7 linked regions of the Homo sapiens genome follow. The protein of the gene in region 4 purifies or fractionates together with the protein of the main gene of each other region. This does not show direct contact. Each region holds a gene or a part of one and is shown on either strand. Other genes may lie near its edges.

Region 1 (3,500 bases), on a different chromosome or scaffold from region 4:
ACACGAGAGTTAACTTGCGGGTCAAATTTGTGAGAACAGAAATGAACAGATACCTAAAATGGTGTAAGGAAGCATCTAATTTTCTTGAAACCCGTAGGAATCTATATATTCTGCATAGAAACTAAGACTTGGGGTCAGTTCTAACAGTGACAGTTCCTAGGATATAAGAGCAAAGCTCTGCTGTTATCCTCTGTGGGAGGTATTTTGATTTATTTTTTGCATAGCTTATGAATGTACTTGTGGGAATTCTTTAGAAAAGAAAGCTACTTGTTCTTACTGATAACCTGGGTGAACAGAGCAGTTCTATAAAATTTATCTCTCTCCCATCTTTTTTTCATCTAATGTTTCAACATATGGGACAGGAGGTAGCCAGAGATAATTATGGGATATGTATAGATCTCATATCCCTTTTTTCCTCAGATTCCAAGAACTGGACTTGAGCACAGAAGCCTTCTTCTACTTTGAATCTGTGAAGGAACAAGAATGGTCCATGGCTGTAGAGAGAGGTTTGCATTCCAAAGCCAAGTATAAGAAAGTAAGCCGCATTTAATTATCTTTTTAAGTGTATGACTAAATAGGGCTCACCGGGAGTTATTCCATTATCTACAACTTGTTCCAAAAGAATAGTTTAATTGAATTCTTCTCTGTGTGTAATACTGGGATAGGGCAGATTGATCATTCATCCTTATTTCCTAGAAAAAAAAATCCCTAAGCTTTCTGATACTATATTTTCATTGCTTAGATAGCTTTTAGGGGAAAAAAGAATTTTATTATGCTTATATCAATACTTAGTTTGAAATAATTACATATAAGATTTAGATTACTCACTGACATGGTCAGAATTGAATGCTTTACAGAAAAGCAATATGAAACGTGGGCGCATGGTGCATGTGTTGCAATCAGAGCAAGAATAGAAGTGGTGTGGAATTTGAACGAGTTCTAAACTTGGTTTTAAGTTAAGAGGAGAGTTGACTTTAGCAAGATGGGCCAATTTGTTTGTCTTTAGAAGGTATGTGGTAAAGGCATTTAGCTACCAGAAGAGTTAATTACAGGGCTATCATACTAAGGTCTCTAAAAGAAGTAATGTGAGTAATTTTTCTCTACATCTTCTAACAGTTTATATAGGTAATAAAACTCCTGGGGATGTTATTCCTCTCATATAGGTCCCTGACTAATGTATATCTCAGACATATTTCTAGCTGTAGTTCACAAGTTAAAAATAAGTAAAAAAGATTGCTGTTTGGTTGATTTCAATTTCTTAGAAAATTAGACATCAGAAACTAGGAAGGAAAGGTGGAAGGAACAAGCTGGGATAGTGGCTTTATTATTTGAACTTTTAATGCTGCTTACTCCTGGTAGGCTAAGAAGTGATTAAAAGAATAGATCTAGAGCTGAAAGTACTCATTGTCCCTCCCAGCTTTTAACTCTTATTGGTCAGTGCCAGATTAGAGCCTCCCCAGAGAATATTAGTTTCCACTTGACGGGGTCCACTGAGAAATTAGAGGATATGAAGTCAGATTTGGGCACTAGTATATCATCTTGATGGAAAATTAGTCGTGGGACATTAGAAATGTGGCAAAGATTGGTATTAACATTAACCTTTTGTAACTCCCCGGAACTCATAGGTTCAACTGGTGCGCCTTGTTGGGATGATGCTTCTTATATTTGCCAGAAAGGATCAGTGTCGATACATTCGTGATATTGCTACAGAAACAGTTGGAACTGGAATCATGGGGAAAATGGTGAGTTACTTTGGAAATGAGCTTGATTATTATTCATGTTCATGTAAAGTTCAGTTGCTTGTTCTGTGTACTAATTGAATAATTACTCTTGCTAACAGGGAAACAAAGGTGGGGTAGCTGTGAGATTTGTATTTCACAACACCACCTTTTGCATTGTCAATTCCCATCTGGCTGCACACGTGGAGGACTTTGAGAGAAGGAATCAAGATTATAAGGACATTTGTGCGAGAATGAGTTTTGTGGTCCCAAATCAGACCCTCCCGCAGTTGAACATCATGAAACATGAGTAAGTGGTTAACTCACCTGTAGCCTTTGAGTAGTGGCTACAGGAGTTTGGATAGTGTAGAGATTAAATGTGAGATACTGTAGAGCTGTGAAGAGTGAAAGATTACCAGTGAGGGATTGGGGTCACAAAGGAGAGGGTTTTTGAGTAATAACAGAATCATTGAGGCAGAGAAATTAGACTTGATATCAGAGGAAAAGATAGTTCTATTAGTGGGGCACCTAGAATAATGCTGGAGGGTCTGTAGTTGGAGTCAGTTTTTATTGTTTTTATGATAAAATAGAAATATTCATTGCAAATGTAATAAAAGATAAAATTAGAAGTTAAATTTCCTCATTTCTTATTCTCTACCTAGCCAGTCCCTCTCTCCAAAGGAAACCATTCTTAACAGTTGGGTGTGTAGCCTTTTAGATCTGTACTGTCCAATATGACAACCAGTAGCCATATATGGCTGTTAGGTACCTGAAAGTGACTGGTCCAAATTAAGATATGCTGTATGCATAAGCTATATATTGGATTTTAAAGACTTAGGAAGAAGATGTACGATATCTTGATTTCTAAAATATTGATCACATGTTGAAATAATTTGGATATATTGAGTAAAATGAAATTTATTGATACTCACTTGTTTTTTTTCTTTTTAAATGCAGCTACTAGAAAACTTAAAATTATATTGTGAGGTGCATTATAATTCTATTAAATAGCACTATTCTAGCCTTTTGTCTATTCATATACAAACACACACATAGGTACTTGGTGTATAAGACTGTATTATTCTATTTATTGTGGATTCCTTTCCAAGCCAGTATATATAGATCTACATTATTCTTTTTAATGGCTGTGCTTATTAAAAACAGGGGCAGCAGAGAGAGGTCAGTGAAGAATGGGATTTAATAAGCATAGAAGCAGAGATGTGTTGAGGAGTAGATGTGGTGGTAGAAAATGATTAGTTTTAAAGAAATTAATATACCTAAAACCATGAAAACCCTAGAAGAAAACCTAGGCATTACCATTCAGGACATAGGCATGGGCAAGGACTTCATGTCTAAAACACCAAAAGCAATGGCAACAAAAGCCAAAATTGACAAATGGGATCTAATTCAACTAAAGAGCTTCTGCACAGCAAAAGAAACTACCATCAGAGTGAACAGGCAACCTACAAAATGGGAGAAAATTTTCGCAACCTACTCATCTGACAAAGGGCTAATATCCAGAATCTACAATGAACTCAAACAAATTTACAAGAAAAAAACAACCCCATCAAAAAGTGGGCAAAGGACATGAACAGACACTTCTCAAAAGAAGACATTTATGCAGCCAAAAAACACATGAAAAAATGCTCACCATCACTGGCCATCAGAGAAACGCAAATCAAAACCACAATGAGATACCATCTCACACCAGTTAGAATGGCAATCATTAAAAAGTCAGGAGACAACAGGTGCTGGAGAGGATGTGGAGAAATAGGAACACTT
Region 2 (3,500 bases), on a different chromosome or scaffold from region 4:
ACTACTATTATATGCAACAATAAACATGAATTTCAAAAGCCTTAGGCTAAGTGAAACCATATAAAAAAAAAGCTACATCCTGGACGGTTGCAGTGGCTCACGCCTGTAATCCCAGCACTTTGGGAGACCGAGACGGGCAGATCACCTGAAGTTGGGAGTTCAAGACCAGCCTAACCAACATGGAGAAACCCCGTCCCTACTAAAAATACAAAATTAGCCAGGCGTGGTGGCGCATGCCTTGTAGTCCCAGCTACTCAGAAGGCTGAGGCAGGAGAATTGCTTAAACCTGGGAGGCGGAGGTTGCAGTGAGCTGAGATGGCACTATTGCACTCCAGACTGGGCAACAAGAGCTAAACTCTGTCTCAAAAAAAAAAAAAGCTACATCCTGTATAATCCTATTCATTTGAAATTTAAAAACATGTAAAACTCACTACGGTGACAGAAATCACAATGATTGTCTATGGGTATGGGATGAAACAGAAGGGGACCCAAGGAAACTCTCTTGGAGGATGGAAATGCTATTTAGTTTGATTGGGTTATGATTACATAGGTATATATATTTATCAAAAATCACTGAATTATATACTGAAAATCTATGCATCTCATTGTATGCATAATTTTAGCTCAACAAAGTATTGTCAGGGAGAAAAAGAAAAAAACAAAACAACTTTAAACCAGACTTCTAGTTCAGGATATCAGAATGACCACAGTATTTTTCTTCTCCCCATAAATGGGTACTAGGAGGGAACATGAGAGGATGTTCTGGATCACTGGTTTTGTTCTAGTTATCTTGTTCTAAATGATGATTATATAGGTGTTTCAACTTTGGGATAATTTATCTAATTATACTCATGATTTGTACATTCTTCTGTATATATGTTATATTCAATTGTTTAAAATGAGCCAATGAATCAGGTACAAAAGTTCTATCTAGCTACTGAATTTTCATTAAGGATGTTAAATTTACCAAATAATGGTTTGGTTTCTAAATCAAAACAAAAGTGAAAACACTCCTTAGCTCTGATGATCAGCATTAGTCCCAGTGTAGGCCTAAAATACCAGCTTTTCAGCTCCCAATAAAATGCACACATGAAAGTGACTTCACGAAAGACTGTAAGATAGATATACTCTAGGTAACCTCAAAGCATCCCAATAAAATATGAATCCATTTTCTTACCCCATCTTTATCCTGATATTCTATAGTATGTTTGCTGAAAATGTATCCACCATACTTCTCAAAATAAACTGTAACTTTTTTTTTTTTTTTGAGACGGAGTCTTACTCTGTCACCCAGGCTGGAGTGCAGTGGCACGATCTCGGCTCACTGCAAGCTCCGCCTCCCGGGTTCACGCCATTCTCCTGCCTCAGCCTCCCGAGTAGCTGGGACTACAGGCACCCGCCACCAAGCAGGGCTAATTTTTTTGTATTTTTAGTAGAGATGGGGTTTCACCGTGTTAGCCAGGATGGTCTCGATCTCCTGACCTCGTGATCCGCCCATCTCGGCCTCCCAAAGTGCTGGGATTACAGGCGTGAGCCACCACACCTAACCAATAAACTGTAACTTTTATACAATTTATGTGTCAGAGAGCTTGTTTTTGCCAAATCTTCATTTGGACCTCTGCTAGACTACCAAATTCCCTGAATATTTTTTGAGAATAACAACATGTAAAATCTGATGACTGAAGTGTTGTGAAGGTAGCTAAATTCAAAAATCAAAAATATATAATGCAGGCAATTAACACAACTATTCTATATTCTCTGATAGTATTTAGAAGTACAGAAAACAGAGGGTGGGTTAATCAAGACAAATAAAGGTCAAGGTCACAAAGGAATTGGTGGGGATGGGGTGGTTTGGGGATTTTAAATGAAATCACTAACTAGGGGATCTGACAGTAAAAGAGGAGAAAATGAAACCAAGAGACTTAAATGACTAGGACCAAAAATCAAACAGCACATTTATCACAATTCAAGCAGCAAAAGTGGTAGAAAGGCAAGATGTTATAGTGAAAAAAAGAAGAGTTTCAGAGTTCAAGACAGATTTCATCTACTTAATTGTATACCTGAAAATGAATATAGGAGTATCTACCATTAGAATTATCAACCTATTGCATGGTGCCTGACCCAAAGTAGAATCTGAACAAATAAAAGGTAACTGTTATAAGTTGATGAAGTAAATGCAAATTACTTTTAACTTTTACCTAGAAGACAATTACAAACTCAAATCTACTGAGAAAAAAATAAAACTTATTCCAAGCTAACTATAAATAACATATAGCCCAATTGATATTTTTAGATTATCCAATCAAATGTTCTCTTCTTTTCTTAAGGCTAAATTAAAGTTGATTGGACAGATATTACACATGCAAATATATAACCATATATACTCAAAACAAAATTTTACTTTTTTCTGGAGCAATTTTAAATCACAAGTACATTGGTTTATATAATTTTTTTCTACATCTGTAGAATTTCTACACTGCCCTTATAACTCAATATTGACCACAATGAGATTAATCACAAATCTAAAGAAGGAAGATAACTTATAAAAATTGATTTGGTCTTCTTACTGCAGACACAGTCAAAGCAAGAAAACAGTATTAAGTAAGACAATAGAATTTTTAGTACTCACAAGCAATGGGAAAGATTAAATCATGTTAACAGTGAAGTTTGGTCTTGGCATCACATTAACTCATTAGGTGCCATATTACGCATTATACATTCATCCCATCAACTGATTCCTGAATGCAAATTTTAACAATTCTCCAATCAGCAAATGTATTAACCACAGCTTTGCCAATGATAAAATGATATTTAAAGCAATATTCTTACCTGCCTCAACAATTTCTCAATGGCCGACATTACCATAAGGCCTCTCCAAACTACTGGTTCACTTTCTTCAACCAGAAAGCCCATAGACATACTGCAACAGTAACATAAAAATACAACTAATTTGTATAAATTAATCAACATTATTCTGAAAAGTAACATTAAAAATATATATATGCTCACCAAGCAATACCATAATTCAAGAGAGGCCTCATTAGGTTGCCTGGAAAAAAAAAAAATCCTCTCTTTTAGAACAATAAAACACAACACATAAACATTCTGAATTGGGTTTTTTTTTCATCTTTTTAAAAATTTTTTTAATTAACAAAAATTGCATATGTTTACGGGGTACAACGTAATGTTATGATACATGTCTACATTGTAGTAGAATAATAATAAGTAAATAAATAATAAACCATGCTAATTAGCATTCCACATCACCTCACATATTCTTTCTTTGCAGTAAAAACATTTAAAGTCTACTCTTTTAACAATGTTGAAATATACAAAAAATGATTGTTAACAATAGTCACCATGCTGCGCAACAGATCACTAGAACTTATTCCCCCTGTCTAACTGAAACTTCGCACTACTTGACTAACATCTCCCCTTTGCCCGTCCATCCTTCCAGGATCAAAGAATACCAAACTGGAAATACAAATAGGCTACTCATA
Region 3 (4,246 bases), on a different chromosome or scaffold from region 4:
CCAAGAACATGCAGGTGAGAGAATGGGAAAGTGGGGACAGAGATCGGGGTGGTCAGGAGGCCTTGGGCCAGGCAGAGGCTGGGAGTTCACTCAACAGGCAGTCTCTGGACAGGCTGTGAGGTCAAGAGTCAACCCACAGGACAGAAGGTAATAGCCTAAGCCAGAGGTCAGAATATCATTGGTTCACAGAGGACCAGTAAGTTACTTGTCCCCCTAGAGCCCAGAATGTCATTAGCCAAGTCAGGGTCACTGGGTCACTGACCAAGTCAGGGGACAGAAGGTCATCATCTAGGTTAAGGTGAGAGGGTCACTGCTGACACCAGCAGTCGGGTCTTCACCGATAGCTACCGACAGGCTAGGGGCAAGGAGGTCACTGCCAGTCAGGAGGACAGGAAGCTATGGGTGAGGCCAGGAGCCAGTAGGTCCCTGACCAGCATAGGAATCAGAAGGCCAAAGCCTGGGCTAAGGCGGGCGTGGGGCACTGACCCGGCGTGGGAAACTTGGGGGCCTCAGCGAAGCCACCGTATTCCTCATCATAGCCCTCATCCAGCTGCTGGAAGCAGCGATTGTTCACGGTGGCGGCAGAGGGCGGCAGCTGGCGGTCACCCACGCTGATCTCTGATCGGGCCAGCAGGGCAGTGGTGACACGCTGGCTATTTTCTAGCAGGGTGTTCTTGTTCTGTTTCCACTGCGGGAGGTGGGGGCACACCTGGAGGTCAGCTAGGGGGAGGGGCTCTTGTTTCCTAGTCCCCCACCCTGGTCCCCCAACTCCCGGAGGCACACCCACCTGTTCTCGTATTCTCAGCAACACTGTGCGGAAGCCGACTCGGGTCAAGCCATCCTCAGGAGGGAAATAGGTGCCCCCGACAAAGGGCTGGAGGTTGGGAGTCAGCCACACATTCATGGGCCAGCCCCCGCCGCTGCTGGTGGCCTGGCGGAGAGAGGGCGAGGGTGAGGGGAGCTGCTCTGAGCCCATGTGGCGCATACACTCCCGAGGAGGGCTGCTCACCTGCACGAACGTCATGTACACCTTGTCCACGTCAGGCCGCTCCTCACGGTCTACCTTCACACTCACAAAGTCCTCACTGAGCAGGCGGCCAATCTCCTCATTCTGGAAGGACTCCTCTTCCATCATGTGGCACCAGTGGCAGGTGGAGTACCCGACTGAACAGGGCCATGGGGAGAGGTCAGGGGGCCAGCAACGGGTCAGAGGGAGGCTGGCCAAGTGGCCCTGGCTACATGGAAGACGTCCTGGCCTCTAGTCTCCTGGAAGACCCGCCAGGCCGAGAGGACCCTCCCCCATCCACTGCCACTCCCTGCCCACACCCCCACATCAGGGAAGGTGGGAGCATTACCTGAGAGGAAAATCGGCTTGTTTTCCTTCCTGGCCTTGTCGAAGGCTTCCTGTCCCCAGGGGTACCTAGACCCAGCAGGGTGGGGCATCACTCAGTAGCCCAGGGGGTCTGGGAGGGGCCCAGGACCCCAGCGATTCCAGGCAGGGCCCCAGGAGAGGTGCTCACCAGTCCACAGGATTGTAGGCATGTTGTAGGAGGTATGGTGACTTCTCGTGGATCAGGCGGTTGGGGACCCTCTGGGGTGTAGATGAAGGATGGCTTCCTTTCCCTCCAGCAGGCATGGGCACTGAACTACTGACCGTCGCACTTCGGTCCTTGTCCCGGGAGGAGCTACCCCTGGCGAGGACTGGTGCATCAGGCAAGCCAGGGGCCTCCACCCACCTTCTCCCAGGCCCCCCAGCACCTGCTCCATTTCACTCAGCACCCCAGTAGGACCCCTGCTCCCAGCCCAACCCACCTTTCTGAACCATGGGGGAGACTGTGGCCTTTGTGCTCCCCCTTATGTTTTTTGGGGGGTGAGGAGAGGTGGCTCATTGGGGGCTCCTTGCCAGGTTAGTCTCCCCCAACCTCCTGGGCCTGGCGGTGGGAAGGATGGCTGTGAGGTCAGGGCGGGTCACAATGGGCAGAATGGTTCTTGGGGCTCCATTCTTACCCCTCCCCAGGCCCCTCCCCCGGCCCTTCCTGGAGCAGCTGCTTGGAGGCATCTCTCTGGCAGGCCTGGGTGTGGCCCCACTGGAAGGCAGCCTACTGTTGGTGGCTGGACAGGCCAAGATCAGTAGGGTCTGGGACTCGACCAGGTGAGGGACAAACAGAGGAAACCAGACATGGGGACTCCCTCACTCAGCGCCCACCTGCTGGGACTCCTGTGGGGCCAGGTCCTGGGCCAGACTCCAGGACACCTAGGGAATCAGAGACCTCAGGGAGTTCAGCCTGGAAGTGGGACTGCAGGCAGACCTAAATAACGAAAGGTCCATGCAGCAATAAAGGACTGTGACAGGGCACAGGGTACTATTGGAGAAAGGCCCTTGACCCAGCATCCAGCACTGGGGTGCAAGGAAGGCTTCCTGGAAGCAGTGTCAGAACAGTCCCTGAGGAGCTGGCACTGCACTGGAAGGAAGGGGAGAGGAGGGAAGGGATGAGGACGGGAGAGGAGGGGAGGAGGGCCTTACAGCCAGAGCCAGGTCTCAGGAGCAGACCGGAGGTGGGGTGGGGGAAGGGCCAGGCATGCAGGGGTGGTCCAGACTGGCACTGGGGACCGGTGTCCGGAAGACCCTCCACTGGGCCCGCAGGCAGGCGCAGGGAGTGCCCTAGGGGCCCGCTCGCCCGCCCGTACCTGCGGCTCGCGGCGAGGCCTGCACCGGCGCGGGGCAGCAGAAGGACGCGGCCCAACCAGGCCCGCGCGCCCAGCATGGCTGCTCGGGGCCGTGGGCCCGGCCGCTGAGGACAGGAAGGGAAGTCAGGAGGCTGCGAGGGGCGGGCCGGGCACCTACGGAGCCGCGGGCGGGTCTTCGCCGGGACTTGGGACAGTGTGGCTGGTCTCCGAGCGTCGCCCTGCGGCGGAGCGCAGAATTGCAGATCAGGCACCCGAGCCTTGGGAGGACCCATTCTGTGCATAAAACTGGGCTCTGCCCCTGCCTGGGGAGGACAGCCCTTCTCAAGGGAATAGGGAGAGTTGTGGGATCTAGGGCTGGGAGATGCTAGGGACATGGGATGCCAGAGCTTCAGCTCATTTTGTCCAACCCCTGCCCATTTTACAAATGAGAAATGAGATCCAAGGCGAAGGCGTACCTTGGCCAGGTCCACCAGCTAACAAGGTTTGCTTTTTGCAGCCTCCTCGTCTCTAGGTCCTACTCAAATCCTACCCACTCCAGGAAGTCTTCCTTAAATAATACTGATGAGCCCATTTTATGTCTCATAGGTTACACATGGCCTCATTGGCTACATTCAGCCAATATTTATTAAGTGCCTGCCGCCTGCCACTCTGCAAGGCACTGAGTATACAATGGTGGGCAGAGAGAAACAAGGCTCCTGCCCTCACATGGCTCACAGTCTGTTGAGAGCGGCAGATGCTAATTCGACAGCCATACCGATAAACACCCACGTGACAAGTCCGTGAGGGTATAACGTAACAAGTGACCTGATCTGGTGGAAGGGGCAAAGGATGAAGGCTTCCCTGAGGAAATCACATTTGTGAAGCCATGGAGAACGAGAGAAAGGAACTTGGAGGGTGCTCAGGGGGAGTGCTGGGGAAGGAGGCAGAGGTACAGTTTGTGCAAAGGTCCCGTGGCTTGTCAGTGAGTCCGGGCTGAGCAACTGCAGAAAGAGGGAAGACAGGCAGTAGATGAGGGCAGAGGCAAGATCTTGGAGACACTCGTGAACTGTAAGAAGGGGATTTTTATTTTTTGAGACAGAGTCTCGCTCTGTCACCCAGGCTGGAGTGCAGTGGTGTGATCTCGGCTCACTGCAACCTCCGCATCCTGGGTTCAAGGCTGGTCTCGAACTCCTGACCTCAGGTGATCCATCTGCCTTGGCCTCCCAAAGTGCTGGGATTACAGGCATGAGCCACCATACCCGACCCCATTTTTTTTTAGCCAGAGTCTCACTCTGTTGCCCAGGCTGGAGTGCAGTGGATCTTGGCTCTCTGCAACCTCCACCTCCTAGGTTTAAGCGATTCTTGTGCCTCAGCCTTCCAAGTAGCTGGGACTACAGGAGCGCGCCACCATGCCCAGCTAATTTTTGTATTTTTAGTAGAGACGGGGTTTCGCCATGTTGCCTAGGCTGGTCTCAAACTCCTGACCTCAAGCGATCCATCTGCCTCAGCCTCCGAAGTGCTGGGATTACAGGTGTGAGCCACCGTGCCTGGCCAGAGAAGGGGATTTTTGATGACAGTA
Region 4 (3,489 bases):
TAGAGCAGGATGGCCAAGTATGCCCCGGCCTGTGTCTGGAGAAGCAAGGCACCTCCTGTGTACAATGGGGACCCTAATTCCCCACTCAACTTGTGGGGGTGAAGAGCACAGGCTTTGGAATCAGATCAACCTGAGTTTAAATCCCAGCTGGGCTGTTTTCCAGCTGTGTGACTTACGGCAAGTCTTTGAGCCCTTTTCCCCCTCTTTGAGCCTGCTTCCTCAGCTGTCAGAGATAAGGACCTTCCTTGCAGTGCTGTTGTGATGATTAAATGAAATCACAGATGTAAAGAGTGCTTGGTACAACAGGAGGCACAGGGTAAATGCTTGGGTAATGGAACTACTGTCATTATCACCCATCTGGCTGCATGTTACAAGGTCAATGAGATAATGGATACAAAATGTAAACTAGATGAACATAAAGGCTTATTATATAGACCAGTGTGTCCTGAAGAAAACTGGTGTCCTAAAGTGTGTCCTGCAGAAAACTAGTTCCCTGGAATGTTAATAGCTGTTTCTAAATAAAGGTTTTGCAGGCAATATGTTTTGAGAATGCAGAGTTAAATGAGAATACAATAAGTTTCTTTATTGTTAAAGTATTTAATCCCTAATAGTGATATACACTGTGAATCTTCAAGAGGACAGAGTAAGCAAACCTAACTGACCAGGAGTGGCTAGAGTATTGTCAGTTCCACAGAACAAATGTGAGAGAAAGATCTGGATTTGGTGTTAGGGTGCCTTTAACATCTAACACTGGTTAACTCTCCTTTTAAACCTGTTGGCTTGGCATTATAGGTTAATCCATATTCAGGTTCTCAGACCTGGGAGGCGGGGAACTTCGTGATCATCTTGTTCAGTGTTTTCCAAACCTCAGTCATTCCAATACCTCCCTGATTCTTGTCCTATCTAAAAATGCCACTTGTGTCCTTTTCTTCTTAACATTTTTCTTTAAATGAACCTATTTTTTTTTCTTTATCTTTTTTTTTTTCTTTTTTGAGACAGAGTCTTGCTCTGTTGCCCAGGCTGGAGTGCAGTGGTGCAATCTCAGCTCACTGCAACCTCCACCTCCTAGGTTCAAGCAATCCTCCCGCCTCAGCCTCCTGAGTAGCTAGGATTACAGGTGCCCACCACCATGCCTGGCTAACTTTTGCATTTTCAGTAGAGATGGGGTTTCACTGTTGGCCAGGCTGGTCTTGAACTCCTGACCTCAAGTGATCTGCCGCCTCAGCCTCCCAAAGTGTTGGGATTACAGGTGTGAGCCACTACGCCCAGCCGAACCTATTTTTTTTCTTAAATAAGTTTATCGAGACGGAGTCTTGCTCTGTCGCCTAGGCTGGAGTGCAGTGGCGTGATCATAGCTCACTGCAGCCTTGAACTCGTGGGCTCACATGATTCTCTGCCTCAGCCTCCTGAGTAGCTGGGACCACAAGTGCCCAACTAATTCTTTTTCTTTTTCTTTTTCTTTTTTTTAGAGACAGGGTCTTGCCATGTTGCCCAGGCTGGTCTCGAACTCCTGGCCTTAAGCTGTTCTCCTGCCTCAGCCTCCCAAAGTACTGGGATTACAGGTATGAGCCACTGTGCCCATCCTTTAAGTAATTTTAAAAGACAACTTCATAGCACTACCGTACGTGGAAAGTCTCACTTGCCACCGAGAGAAGCTAGCCATAAAAATAAAAGGTGAGGCACGGTGGCTCACACCTGTAATCCCCGCACTTTGGGAGGCTGAGGTGGGCAGATCACCTGAGGTCAGGAGTTCAAGACCAGCCTGGCCAACACGGTGAAACCCCGACACTACTAAAAATACAAAAATTAGCCGGATGTGGTGGTAGGCGCCTGTAATCCCAGCTACTCGGGAGATTGAGGCAGGAGAATTGCTTGAACCCAGGAGGCAGAGGTTGCAGTGAGCGGAGATTGTGCCACTGCATGCCAGCCTGGGCGACAGGGCGAGACTAAATAAATAAATAAAGTAAATAAGTAAGTAGTGAAAATGAAACGTCATTAAATCTTGCCTAGATGTTGTTGCCTGAAGGAGGCCCTGACCTGAGATCCACTTTCTGACTCTTTTCTAAAAATGGAGATGAGAAGTGTTAGAGAAGTACTTTTTTTTTTTTTTTTTGAGAGAGAGTTTCACTCTTGGTGCCCAGGCTCGAGTGCCATGAGCAATCTCGGCTCACCACAACCTCCACCTCCCAGGTTCAAGCAATTCTCCTGCCTCAGCCTCCCAAGTAGCTGGGATTACAGGCATGTGCCACCACGCCTGGCTAATTTTGCATTTTTAGTAGAGACAGGGTTTCTCCATGTTGGTCAGCCTGGTCTCGAACTCTCAACCTCAGGTGATCCACCTGCCTCAGCCTCCCAAAGTGCTGAGATTACAGGTGTGTGTGTGAGCCACTGCAACCTGCCCAAGAAGTCCTTTTTTTAAAACCAAACTGAGAGCTGGCCAGGCGCGGTGGCTCACACCTATAATCCCAGCACTCTGGGAGGCAAAGGCGGGCGGATCACAAGGTCAGGAGATCGAGACCATCCTGGCTAACACAGTGAAACCCCGTCTCTACTAAAAAATACAAAAAATTAGCCGGGCGTAGTGGCAGGCGCCTGTAGTCCCAGCTACTCGGGAGGCTGAGGCAGGAGAATGGAGTGAACCCAGGAGGCGGAGCTTGCAGTGAGCCGAGATCGTGCCACTGTACTCCAGCACTCCAGCCTGGGCAACAGAGCGAGACTCCGTCTCAAAAAAAATAAAAAAATAAAAAAACCCCAACAAAACCAAACTGAGAGCTTCTCAATTTGTAGTCAGAAAGATTAAAAAACAATTAGGCTGGGTGTGGTGCTCATGCCTGTAATCTTAGCACTTTGGGAAGCCTAGCTAGGAAGATTGTTCAAGGCCAGGAGTTCAAGGCCAGCCCTAGCAACATAGTGAGACCCCCCCTCATCTCCATACAAAAAAAAAAAAAAAAATTTTTTTAAATAGCTGAGTGTGGTGGTGCATGCCTATAGTCCTAGCTACTTGGGAGGCTGAGGCAGGAGGAATGCTTCAGCCCAGGAGGTTGAAGCTGCAGTAAGCTATGATTGTACCAGTGTACTCCAACCTGGCCAACAGTGAGACCCTGTCTCAAAAAATAATAATTAAAAGGGGACCAACCTCCTGATACAGTGATATTTACTCTAGTGCACACCACCTAAAAACCTCAGGTACCAATACTTGTACATGTCTCATTTTTGGACAAACACTGACTTGACCGAGCACTTCCTTCACTAGAAACAGAAGTGGACCCAGAGGGGGACTCCCTTGCCTGGGTCACACAGAGAAGGAGTAGCTGACCTGGGGTTAGAACTTGAGTCCTAGGCCAGTATACTTTTCACAGTTATGGCAGTTGTGGCTATCTACAGACCTGTCCTCTGGGTCTAGTTTGGAAAAGCCTGACCAGGGATGTGGAGGCCAGGTGTCCAAAGTGGAACAAGCTCCAAGCTGGTCCTAAAGGAGCCCCAAGAGAT
Region 5 (3,500 bases), on a different chromosome or scaffold from region 4:
GGCATGCGCCTATAATCTCAGCTACTCGGAAGGCTGAGGCATGAGAATCACTTGAACCCGGGAGGCGGAGGTTGCAGTGAGCCGAGATCGCGCCACTGCACTCCAGCCTAGGTGACAGAGTGAGACTCTGTCTCCAAAAAAAAAAGAAAAAAAAAAAAAAGGGTGTGTAATTCGGTGATTTTTAGTATATTCACAAGTTGTGTAGCCATTACTACTATCTAATTTCAGAACATTTTCATCACCCCAAAAAGATTTCTATTAGCCCATTAACAGTCTAAGAGTTATTTTGCCAAAAATATGCTCTTCTAATTAATGGTATCCCAAATTATATCATGTTAACATATTTTACCCAAAGCAGAAAGTTTTACTGGAGAATGAGAAGAAGGACAGTAACAAAGTATACTGACTTACCTTCTGCTAAGACAAAGCATGCCTCTGTGTATAAACCACTATGGAACTGGTACACAACAGTTGAGGAAAATAATTCTATTCTTGAGGCAGTAATAAAGTCAACATACATTTTGAGTCCAACAAGGCTTCTAAATAATAAATTTAAAGACTTCCCATTTGAAACTGTGAATAGACCACAGCTTAGAAAGAGCTTAAAAAATTTTAGTTTTAAATGTCCTCATGTTTAATTCTTGGTAATATTGACAGGGTGGATCATTCTTACCATGATATAAATTTCGTCAGTGATTCATCTAGATTCTCCAAATAAGAGAAAATTAAAGTTGTTCTGTCCCTGTTTAGGATTATATCTCTACATTCCTACACCAGCAACATAGAGAAGTTACATTGAGAACCCAAATAGGTAAATTTTAGAAGGATATATAATCAATTTCCCCAATTCACGTAATGCAGATTTTAAAAAATACAGACAAGTGAAGGATATAGCTTTACTAAGGTCTAGTTGGACTGTTCCAGTAGGATCTTCCAGAAAAAATTTTCCCTAAAAAAATGAAAATAAATAAATCCACATTTATGTAACAATGAAAACCGTTGACAAAAAAATTAAACTACAAGTTTGACAACAGAATACAATAGGGAGAAAGTGGATTTTAAAAATCAGCTATTATTTCTAGTCCAGGCTCTTCCATTTACTAGTCTGATAACCCCAGACTAATCACTTAACTGAGATTCTGACTCCTCACAGGTACAATGGAGAATGACTCCTACAGATAAGAAATGGCAAGAGGGACATTTGATGTCTGCCATAAGGAGGGTCTCCCCAGGTACCTTCTAAGACAGCCAACAGCATGTCCAAGGGACCAGGACATACTCTGCAGCTTGCTTGTTCAGAAACCCAGTACTCTCCGTTTATCCAGAGGTCACTACAGGCCTAATTTCAGGCTATGCAAACTGGGCTCCTGCACAAGACACTCTGTCCTGATGTCTTCTCAGGAAACCAAACACAGATGAAAAAGACACTTGGTGACTGAGAAAAGGTTTTTGTTTTTTCTGGGTTTTTTTTTTTTTTTTTTACTATTACAAAAGTTTATTTAACAAAAAGTCTAATATGAAAATGTACATGACCTAATTTTTACGTCATTGTAAAACAGGCCCTATGGAGAGAGAAAATGGGTTTCTCTGCTGAACAGCCATTATTATTTTATTTATTTATTTATTTTTGAGACAAAGTTTCGCTCTTGTTGCCCAGGCTACAGTGCAATGGCACCATCTCAGCTCACTACAACCTCCACCTCCCGAGTTCAAGGAATTCTTCTGCCTCAGCCTCCTGAGTAGCTGGGATTACAGGCATGTGCCACCACGCCTGGCTAATTTTGTATTTTTAGTAGAGACAGGGTTTCTCCATGTTGGTCAGGCTGGTCTTGAACTCCCGGCCTCAGGTGATCCGCCCACCTCAGCCTCCCAAAGTGGCTAGGATTACAGGCGTGAGCCACCGCGCCCAGCCAACAGCCATTATTTATCCTTGTTCCAAGGCTTCTGACATGATGATACTATTTCCTCGTATTACCACTATTCCAATATTGTTCTGTTGGTGAGGCGAGTTTTCAATAAAGAATACATTCCTGTGCCCACTACAAAAATGTTCTATGTAACCGACATTTCATCAATCCAAGGCCAAAAATAAAAGTTTGATGCTTATTAAGTTACCTCTTTTAACTGCGTTATCATTCCAAGAACAATCGCATCTCCGATTTTGGTTGTACTACCCAATAAGGTTTCTATTGTTTTAAGCTAAAATAAAACAAAATAAATTTTAAAGACTGTAAATATATTCTTTCAAGAAACAAAACTTTTTATAAATAACTATATTTGGGGTATACATTTCAGCATTTATAGCTACTTTACAGTAGAAAATCAAATAAAATGGAAATAAAGTTGTAAAATTAAACTTAGGATGTTTAATTTTGTCCTACAAAAAAGCTGTAAGATCAAGTGTATGATGCCTAAAGAAACACCACATCGACTCAGGCTCTTACCAATGACTGAATCCTCACACCATATCATTCTGAATAATGATAAGTACATTTATTTTTTAAATATAGAAAAGAATATCAATTTTATTTTCTTTGAACAGTACCTTTTGAAAACTAGCAAGCTATTTAAAAATATATATTCCAATTTTACTTAGTATTTTAAAAGGCTCTCATTATTATTTACATTCTCAATCTGATCTTTTTTTCTAATCAGAAAGTTTAAGGTAGTAAAAATTGGGACACTATTGTAAAAAATCCTTTCCGGCCAGGTGCAGTGGCTCACGCCTGTAATCCCAGCACTTTGGGAGGCCGAGGCAGGCGGATCACGAGGTCAGAAGATCAAGACCATGGTGAAATCCTGTCTCTACTAAAAATACAAAAAATTAGCCAGGCATGGTGGCAGGCGCCTGTAGTCCCAGCTACTCGGGAGGCTGAGGCAGGAGAATGGTGTGAACCCGGGAGGCGGAGCTTGCAGTAAGCCGAGATCGCCTTGCATTCCAGCCTGGGTGACAGAGCAAGACTCTGTCTCAAAAAAAAAACAAAAAAAACAAAAAACTTTCCATCTTTTTCTATATGTAATCCTAAATATATGTAAATACATACATATATAATTTATAACACACACCTATACAGTTTATTTACAAAGATGAAATCATAGTATATGTACTATTCTGCAACTTAACTAATTGAAGTTAATATTATCTGAGACATCTTTCCATTTTTCTACATATAGATTTCCTTCTGTTTAAAGAATAGAGATATCTATATTATACATATGACCATTTATTTCACCAAACTCCTATTAAAGGACATTTAAGTTGTTCCCAGTTTTCTACTAATAAAAACAATGTTTAATATTTCTGTGCAACTTTCTTGGCCCACTACACAGATAGAAACTTTTTTTTTTTTTTTTGAGATGGGGTTTCACATTGCCCAGGCTGGAGTGCAGTGGCACTCTCATACCTCACTGCAGCCTTAAACTGGGCTCAAGTGATCCTTCCACCTCAGCCCCCTGAGTCACCAAGATTACAGGCACTAGCCACTGCATCCAGCTACAGA
Region 6 (3,500 bases), on a different chromosome or scaffold from region 4:
GAGAATGGCATGAACCCAGGAGACGGAGCTTGCAGTGAGCTGAGATCACACCACTGCACTCCAGCATGGGCGACACAGCGAGACTCCATCTCAAAAAAAAAAAATAATAATAATAATAATAAACTTTCATATAAGGCAAGGGCTGATTGCTAGAAGAAATCTCAATATTAGGCAATTTTTACTATTATTATTATTGAGATGGGGTTTCCTCGTCGTCCAGGATGGAGTGCAGTGGCCTGATCTCAGATTACTGCAACTTCCACATCCCAGGTTCAAGAGATTTTCTCACCTCAGCCTACCAACTAGCTGGATCTACAGGCGTACATCACCACACCCAGCTTATTATTATTATTTTTTAATTTGTACTTTGGCCGGGCACGGTGACTCACGCCTGTAATCCCAGGACTTTGGGAGGCCTAGGCAGGCGGATCACCTGAGGTCAGGAGTTCGAGACCAGCTGGCCAACATGGTGAAACCCTGTCTCTACCAAAAAAAATACAAAATTATCCAGGTGTGGTGGTGTGCACCTGTAATCCCAGCTACTCAGGAGGCTGAGGCAGGAGAATCACTTGAGATTGGGAGGCAGAGGTTGCAGTGAGCTGAGATTGCACCATTGCACTTCAGCCTGGGCAAAAAGAGCGAAACTCCAACTCAAAAAAAAAAAAAAATTTGTACTTTTGATAGAGACAGGGTTTCACCATGTTGCCCAGGTTGGTCACAAATTCCTGGGCTCAAGTGATCTGCTTGCCTCGGCCTCCAAAAGTGCTGGGATTACAGGCCTGAGCCACCGTGCCCGGCCTTATTATTTGTTTTTAAATTACACATGCGACTACAGACAAATTATAAAATACAACATGTAGCTTGGTGCAAAGACCTTCAGCAGAAAAGGATACAGCTCTTGAATGGAAACAATGTCTCTAGCTCCTGCATGGCCACTGTCCTTGCAGGTACTATGCCTGGCTTTCGATAATCTTTTGCTCAGAAACTGAAAAAGAAAAGATAGTGAATACAGTACTTCATAGTCAAGTAATAGCAGAGGTGTTTTCAAAAGCCTTGAGATAATAAAAGGTATTCAAAATATAATCAAAGATCTAACATTCCTCAAAGAATTAAGATACACACAGACTAAAAACAAAGACATCCCATGACTGTCTATAACATATAACAATCCTAATAATACCAATTATTTGGTGAAGACTTATCACCTGCTGGGCATAGTTTTAAGTGCTTTATGTCCATTCTCATTTCTTTTTTTTTTGAGATGGAGTCTCGCTCTGTCCCAGGCTGGAGTGCAGTGGCGCAATCTCAGCTCACTGCAACCTCCACCTCCTCGGTTCAAGCGATTCTCCTTCCTCAGCTTTCCGAGTACCTGGGATTACAGGCGCCTGCCACCATGCCCAACTAATTTTTGTATTTTTAGTAGAGACAGGGTTTCACCACGTTGGCCAGGCTGGTCTTGAACTCCTGACCTTGTGATCTGCCTGCCTCGGCCTCCCAAAGTTCTGGGATTATGGGCATGAGCCACGGCGCCCAGCCCCATTTAATTCTTATAACAATCATAAAAAATACAGATTATTAGACCCAATGTCAGAAAAGGAAACTGAGGCTCAGGGACATAGTTTGTCCAAGCTCACACTGGGACTGGAATCCAGGCCTGACTCGAAAGCCCACACTCCTCTCAATATATCACAATGCCTCCCCTGTAGAGCAGAAATGGAGAATCACATTATTAGTTTGCTTTCATTTTGTTCTTACCTCATGCTCAAAAGAGTTCAGGATCTCTGAGGTAAGGCCAACTTTATGTGTGCTGGTGCAGAAGGCTATAAGCTCGCCTACCATTCCCTCCTCATTCTGTCCATACTGAACACAAAGCTCTACCACTGTAGAAAGGAAAATTGGACAAGTAAAAACTTAGTTCATTTCTCGAAGTTTCACCTAGAAAAGCAAAAATAATCCTGGTTTACTCCATCAATGTTTATTCAGAATCTATTAGTGCCAGGCACTGTTTTGGGCAATGAGAAAACAGAAGCATCCTTGTCCTTACAAAGCTCACCACTGAGGGGAGACAAAAGAGGATAAGGGCAGAATCAGGGGGACCAATTAAAGAATCATGGAAAAGCCCAGGTGAGAGATGATGGTGGCTTGGATCAAGGTGGTGGCAGTGGAGATGGCGAGAAGTGGCTGGACTCTGGATAGGACTTTACATGCTGGAAGTGAAGCCAGTGGGATCTGCTAACTGAATGTAAGGTATGAGAAAAAGAAAGTCAAGGATGATGCTGATATTTTTAGCCTGTGCAACAGGAAGAGTGGCGTCCCTATTAACTGAGATGGGGAAAAGAGCCAGAGGAACTACTCTGAGGAGAGAGAGGAGATACCAGGAGCTTAGTTTTAGACATGCAGAGTTTGAGGTGCCATTTAGACATCCAACTGGAGACAGCAGGCTGAACAAACCAGCCTGTAGTTCAGGCAAGGGTTGTGGGCGGAGGTATAAATTTGGGAACCATCAGTAAATACATGGGATATAAAGCTATGAGACCCCAGGTGAGATCGCCAAGGGAGTGAGCGTATCTAGAAGGGAGAAAAGATCCCAGGCTTGAGTCTTGGGGCGCCTTAGGGCCTCTGAGGATGAATCGGCAAAGCCTGAGAAGCGGTGACACAAGCAAAGCTGAAGAAAAACTAGGAGTAAGCCGGATGCAGTGGCTCACGCCTGTAATCCAGTATTTTGTGAGGTTGAGGTGGGCAGACTGTTTGAACCCAGAAGTTTGAGACCAGCTTGGGCAACAGGGTGAAACCGTTTCTATAAAAAATACAACAATTAGGTGGGCTTGGTGGCATGTGCCTGTAGTTACAGCTACTTGGGGGCTGAGGTGGAAGGATTGCTTGAGCCAAGGAGGTTGAGGCTGCAGTGAGCTGTGATTTGCCCATTATACTCCAGCCTGGGCAACAGAGCAAGACCCTGTCTCAGAAAAAAAAGAAAGAAAAACTAGTAGTGTCTAAGAAGCTAAAAGAAAAATGTGTTTAAAAAAAGAAAAAATGACAAACAGTGTCAAGTGCCGGTGCTAATTCAATTCAAGATGAGGACTGAAAATTCATCACTGGTTTTAGCATGGTGAAGGTCACTGGTGACCTTGAGTAGAGCAGCTTTGGTGAAGTGGTGGCAACAAAAGAACTTACTGAAATGGATTTAAGGAGGAAATATTTAAAGATGGCAAGGCCCCCCCCCTTTTTTTTTTGGAGACAGAGTTGCACTCTGTTGCCAGGCTGGAATGCAGTGGCACGATCTCGGCTCATTGCAACCTCCACCTCCCCGATTCAAGCGATTCTCCTGTCTCAGCCTCCCAAGTAGCTGGGACTACAGGCATGCGCCACCATGCCCAGCTAATTTTTGTATTTTAAGTAGAGACCGGGTTTCACCACGTTGGCCAGGATGGTCTCCATCTCTTGACCTTGTGATCCGCCCTCCTCCGCCTCCCAAAGTGCTCGGATTACAGGCGTGAGCC
Region 7 (3,500 bases), on a different chromosome or scaffold from region 4:
TTCCTCATGCTTCATTTTCCCCTGTTTTCTAAGGTTAAAACTGAGAGCTGTTTCTCCAATGCAAAGCTGCTTGTTTAAGGGTTTCGTATTTGATGTTGGAAATGCTCTGGACTCTTCCATGGTTTTTATATTCCAGTGATTTCACTGCAAACCTGGTGTGTACGCCTTGTAAATTTTGACCCTGGCCAAGTGAAAGGTTCATTTTAAAAGTTTTAAAATAAATTTTAAAGGGGAGCTGGAAGTGGAATAAGTTAAGAACAGTATCAGTTTTGCCTTTCACTCTGACAGAGGCACTCTCTGCTCTGACTGACGGGTGTTGATTAAAAGTATAATATTCAAAAGAAATAGTAAAGTGCATTGGGCCTTGTTAATGTTCTACTAATTTTCTGGGGCTCCGTTTTCAAATTATAGGTGAAATTTTTTTCCTTCCAGTGTTAGTGCCTATGATAAGAAAATACATTTTCTCCACATCTGTCCACAAACCTGCTAGACCCTGTTTTGTGACTACCTCCCCTTGGAACTTGGGGCTCCATGGAAAACACACAGCTTGACCCAGCCAGCCCTCAGAGAGCCTGGGCCGGTCACTGCAGTGGCTGGATTCTCAGCATAAAAAGGCCAAACGTTCGGCCAGGCTGGGACTGGCTCCCATCCAGGACCAACTGTCCACAGTACAGTAAGGCCACTCTCTGAGTCAACATTGTTTCTTTTCTGAATTGCTAAGTTGACCGTCCCTGCAGAAGCAGAGAGGGCTGCGGTGTGGCATTCCTGCCCACTCCAAATGAGGGCAGCCCGGACGCGGGAGCTCTCAGGGAGGCGCAGTGGGCTTTGGGTGTGTCTGGACTGTCTCCACCACACCTGGAAGATACTGTTCACTTCCTTTTTACACTTGTGGGAAATACATGACAGTGTTTACGGGCAGGCTGGCTTTCCGTTTATTTCAACCCTGACAATTGAATAGCAGCAGCAGATGATGAAACTGTTCACTTCCCGATCACTCCCGTTCTCAGATCCATCACTTAGCTCGTCCGTCGCTCAGCTCGTCTGTTAGTCTGAAAGATGAATCGTGCACGGGTCCTCCTGAGAGTGCTGTTCTCGGGGTCTCCATGTGTGAAGTTGTTACATCCTCATGACAACTGTGTAACAGCTGTCACTGAGCCATTTTACAGATGTGGAAACTGAGGCCCTGAGAGGCTGTGGAGGGCTACAGTGTGTCCTGGGCATTTGAGCCCCACACTCTGTCATTAACTCCTGTGCTCGCTGGGACTGGGGGAGAGCAGGACGCGGCAGCACCCCCGGCCCCACTGTGTGCTCCTCTGTGTGCAGGCGACTGTGAGCATACTGGCACCCATGTGAGGGCTGAGTGGTGCTGGTGTGGGCGCATAAAGCACAGGGCGGCTGCGGGGAGCTGGGTGTGTGTCAGTGGCTCGGAGCATTAGTCTCGTGAACATGGTCTGCCAGGTGCGTCATGCTGGGCTACAGAGCCCATGGCTCCACCATAAATGGTGGTTTTGTGTTTGAACTTGAGTGTTGCTGCTCAGTGAGGCCAGAGGAAGGCACCAACCTGCAGGCCTGGCCGGTCCTCACAACACGGAAGGCAACCAGTCCACTAGAGAGACATGTGTCCCGGCCACTGGAGGAGTCCAAGTGACCTTTAAGTCTCACCAGTCCTCAGAGCAACCCAGGTGAATTTGGGGCCTGAGCTTGGTCGTCTGGCCGAAGACCAGCTCAACTTGGATAAAGCTGGAGGAGAAGCCTGTCCCTCAGGCAGCTGCCAGGGCATCTGTGATTTCTGCTTGCGTGCACTCTTGGCGACTATTGGTGGTGGTCGCAGTCAGGGCATCTGGTTGCCTTTACTGTCCTTACACCAGCTGGGCAGAGCTCAGGCTGGGAGCCCAGTGGGAGAGGCCGGGGCGTGACTCCCGGCGCAGAAGCGGCAGTGGCACACCGGCGTCCCAAGCACAGCTGTCCCTGCCAGGCCCCTGCGCGTTGGATCTTTGGGTTGAGTCATGCTCGATGGTGCAGCCATCCTTTCAAGGGAACTGAGCTGTCCAGCGTCCCATGGAGCAGCTCCCCGTGGATCCGGAGAGGCCGTAAATAAACCTCCCCATTTGTAAGCCGGGAACACACATGAACTTTGCAATCGTGTTTGTCCTGGGATCATAGAACGTGGTGGCTGGCAAGACCCAGGCATCCTCATCCTGTGCTGCTGTGAACAGAGGCCGGTAGCTTATTGAGGGACCAGTCCCAGTTCGCTTTCTGTGGGGAAGACTCTGATGGAAGCCTAGGCCCCAAACTCCAAGGTTAGCACATCTTCTTGGGGGGATTGACACCTCCAAAGGTGAACTTGGGTCCAAGGCACGTGTGTGCGACCTGAAGCATGGGTGCCGTGTGCAGGAGACGCCCTCACCGGAGATGGGGACCGAGTCCACACGGCTCTAACTGCAGAATCACTGGCCCTGTGCCCACGACTATTTTATTTTGCTGTTTTATATGATCACAAAGTACACTGTCTTGTTTTTCCCAAAGCATTTGCAGTGAGACATCCCACTTCCTCTCCACGGCAGCTGTTGCGGGCACGAGGCTGCTCCCAGGACAGCGATGCCACCGGGGCTGGGGTGGGCACGGAGGAACCCTCTTCCTTCCTCCTCCCCGCCCTCTGCTCCCCCACAGACTGGCCTGTCTTTAGTCAGCACTTTCCCAGGCTCCCTTCTGCCCACCACGTGCAAACAGTGGCGTGTCCTGGGCCTCTCTCCTTGTAGTGTTTCTTGTGGCCAGCATCCCTCCCATCCAACAGCTGTGTGGCTTCCTGACTGGCTTCTCTCAGGGCCCGCAAGGATGCTGCCAAATGGCCAGAGACAGTCACTGCTCTGCACTTCAAAGCAGGCAGCCCTCGGTGGGGCTTGCCCTGAAAGACAGCGGGCCTTCCTCGATGAGAGCCTGTGCTGGCTCAGGGCCTGTGGGGGCTGCAGCTCTGTTCCTTCCCTGCGTCCACGCTCACATGCTGAATGTTGTGCACCACAGGACACCCTGCTGGGGGCTGTCGGGAGCATGCTCTGTGTTTGGGGCAGAGACGGGCAGAGTGAGTCTCAGCATTACTGCCGTGCAGGGTTGAGTCTCAGCATGACTTCCATGCAGGGGGAGTCTCGGCGTCACTGCCATGCGGGGCGAGTCTCGGCGTTACCGCCGTGCAGCTGCTGGAAGCCACTCGAGCTCCTCTGTCTCGTTTGCCATGAAGCCCATGAGAGACACTGATGTGTGTCTCGGGGCTTCTGTGAGAAGAGCTTGGTTACCCACCGGGTCAGGCACCACGTCGGTGCTGTGAGGCATGGAGGGTGCTCACAGCTGTGCAGTCAGCTACAGAGGCCTTTCCCAGCATCCACATCTGACCGGGCAGTCACACCAGGATGAGCTCCCAGGAAGAGGGCTCCCAGCAAGGGAGGGCGCACCTGGGTGTGAGCTTGGAGGAGGGCAGAGGCACCTGTCACCGCTGACCCTGGGTG

Evidence for each region.
Region 1: the proteins of SNX21 (region 4) and OCRL purify together in Homo sapiens (affinity purification with mass spectrometry; 2 studies listed by BioGRID and IntAct, with this or other methods). This does not show direct contact.
Region 2: the proteins of SNX21 (region 4) and NUBPL purify together in Homo sapiens (affinity purification with mass spectrometry; one large-scale study listed by BioGRID and IntAct). This does not show direct contact.
Region 3: the proteins of SNX21 (region 4) and SPATA20 purify together in Homo sapiens (co-immunoprecipitation; 2 studies listed by BioGRID and IntAct, with this or other methods). This does not show direct contact.
Region 5: the proteins of SNX21 (region 4) and POLE2 purify together in Homo sapiens (affinity purification with mass spectrometry; 2 studies listed by BioGRID and IntAct, with this or other methods). This does not show direct contact.
Region 6: the proteins of SNX21 (region 4) and POLA2 purify together in Homo sapiens (affinity purification with mass spectrometry; 2 studies listed by BioGRID and IntAct, with this or other methods). This does not show direct contact.
Region 7: the proteins of SNX21 (region 4) and GAS6 purify together in Homo sapiens (co-immunoprecipitation; one large-scale study listed by IntAct). This does not show direct contact.

Annotation. Positions count from the first base shown.
Region 1 is NC_000023.11:129,560,759-129,564,258, forward strand, and holds part of OCRL (inositol polyphosphate 5-phosphatase OCRL), read left to right. Parts: intron 1-420; coding exon 421-535; intron 536-1,625; coding exon 1,626-1,742; intron 1,743-1,840; coding exon 1,841-2,028; intron 2,029-3,500. UniProt on the Homo sapiens protein: Catalyzes the hydrolysis of the 5-position phosphate of phosphatidylinositol 4,5-bisphosphate (PtdIns(4,5)P2) and phosphatidylinositol-3,4,5-bisphosphate (PtdIns(3,4,5)P3), with the greatest catalytic activity towards PtdIns(4,5)P2.
Region 2 is NC_000014.9:31,672,904-31,676,403, reverse strand, and holds part of NUBPL (iron-sulfur cluster transfer protein NUBPL isoform 1 precursor), read right to left. Parts: intron 3,050-3,500; coding exon 3,010-3,049; intron 2,921-3,009; coding exon 2,830-2,920; intron 1-2,829.
Region 3 is NC_000017.11:50,545,728-50,549,973, reverse strand, and holds the start of SPATA20 (spermatogenesis-associated protein 20 isoform 1 precursor), read right to left. Parts: upstream 2,801-4,246; 5' UTR 2,766-2,800; coding exon 2,689-2,765; intron 2,310-2,688; exon of another isoform or gene 2,255-2,309; coding exon 2,207-2,254; intron 1,692-2,206; coding exon 1,521-1,691; intron 1,421-1,520; coding exon 1,356-1,420; intron 1,165-1,355; coding exon 1,010-1,164; intron 932-1,009; coding exon 788-931; intron 689-787; coding exon 487-688; intron 1-486. UniProt on the Homo sapiens protein: May play a role in fertility regulation.
Region 4 is NC_000020.11:45,836,799-45,840,287, forward strand, and holds part of SNX21 (sorting nexin-21), read left to right. Parts: exon of another isoform or gene 1-537; intron 538-1,469; coding exon of another isoform or gene 1,470-1,593; exon of another isoform or gene 1,594-1,734; intron 1,735-2,681; exon of another isoform or gene 2,682-3,489. UniProt on the Homo sapiens protein: Binds to membranes enriched in phosphatidylinositol 3-phosphate (PtdIns(P3)) and phosphatidylinositol 4,5-bisphosphate. May be involved in several stages of intracellular trafficking.
Region 5 is NC_000014.9:49,664,215-49,667,714, forward strand, and holds part of POLE2 (DNA polymerase epsilon subunit 2), read right to left. Parts: intron 2,200-3,500; coding exon 2,116-2,199; intron 950-2,115; coding exon 893-949; intron 461-892; coding exon 412-460; intron 1-411. UniProt on the Homo sapiens protein: Accessory component of the DNA polymerase epsilon complex. Participates in DNA repair and in chromosomal DNA replication.
Region 6 is NC_000011.10:65,264,962-65,268,461, reverse strand, and holds part of POLA2 (DNA polymerase alpha subunit B), read right to left. Parts: intron 1,881-3,500; coding exon 1,756-1,880; intron 986-1,755; coding exon 894-985; intron 1-893. UniProt on the Homo sapiens protein: Accessory subunit of the DNA polymerase alpha complex (also known as the alpha DNA polymerase-primase complex) which plays an essential role in the initiation of DNA synthesis.
Region 7 is NC_000013.11:113,854,077-113,857,576, reverse strand, and holds part of GAS6 (growth arrest-specific protein 6 precursor), read left to right. Parts: intron 1-3,500. UniProt on the Homo sapiens protein: Ligand for tyrosine-protein kinase receptors AXL, TYRO3 and MER whose signaling is implicated in cell growth and survival, cell adhesion and cell migration.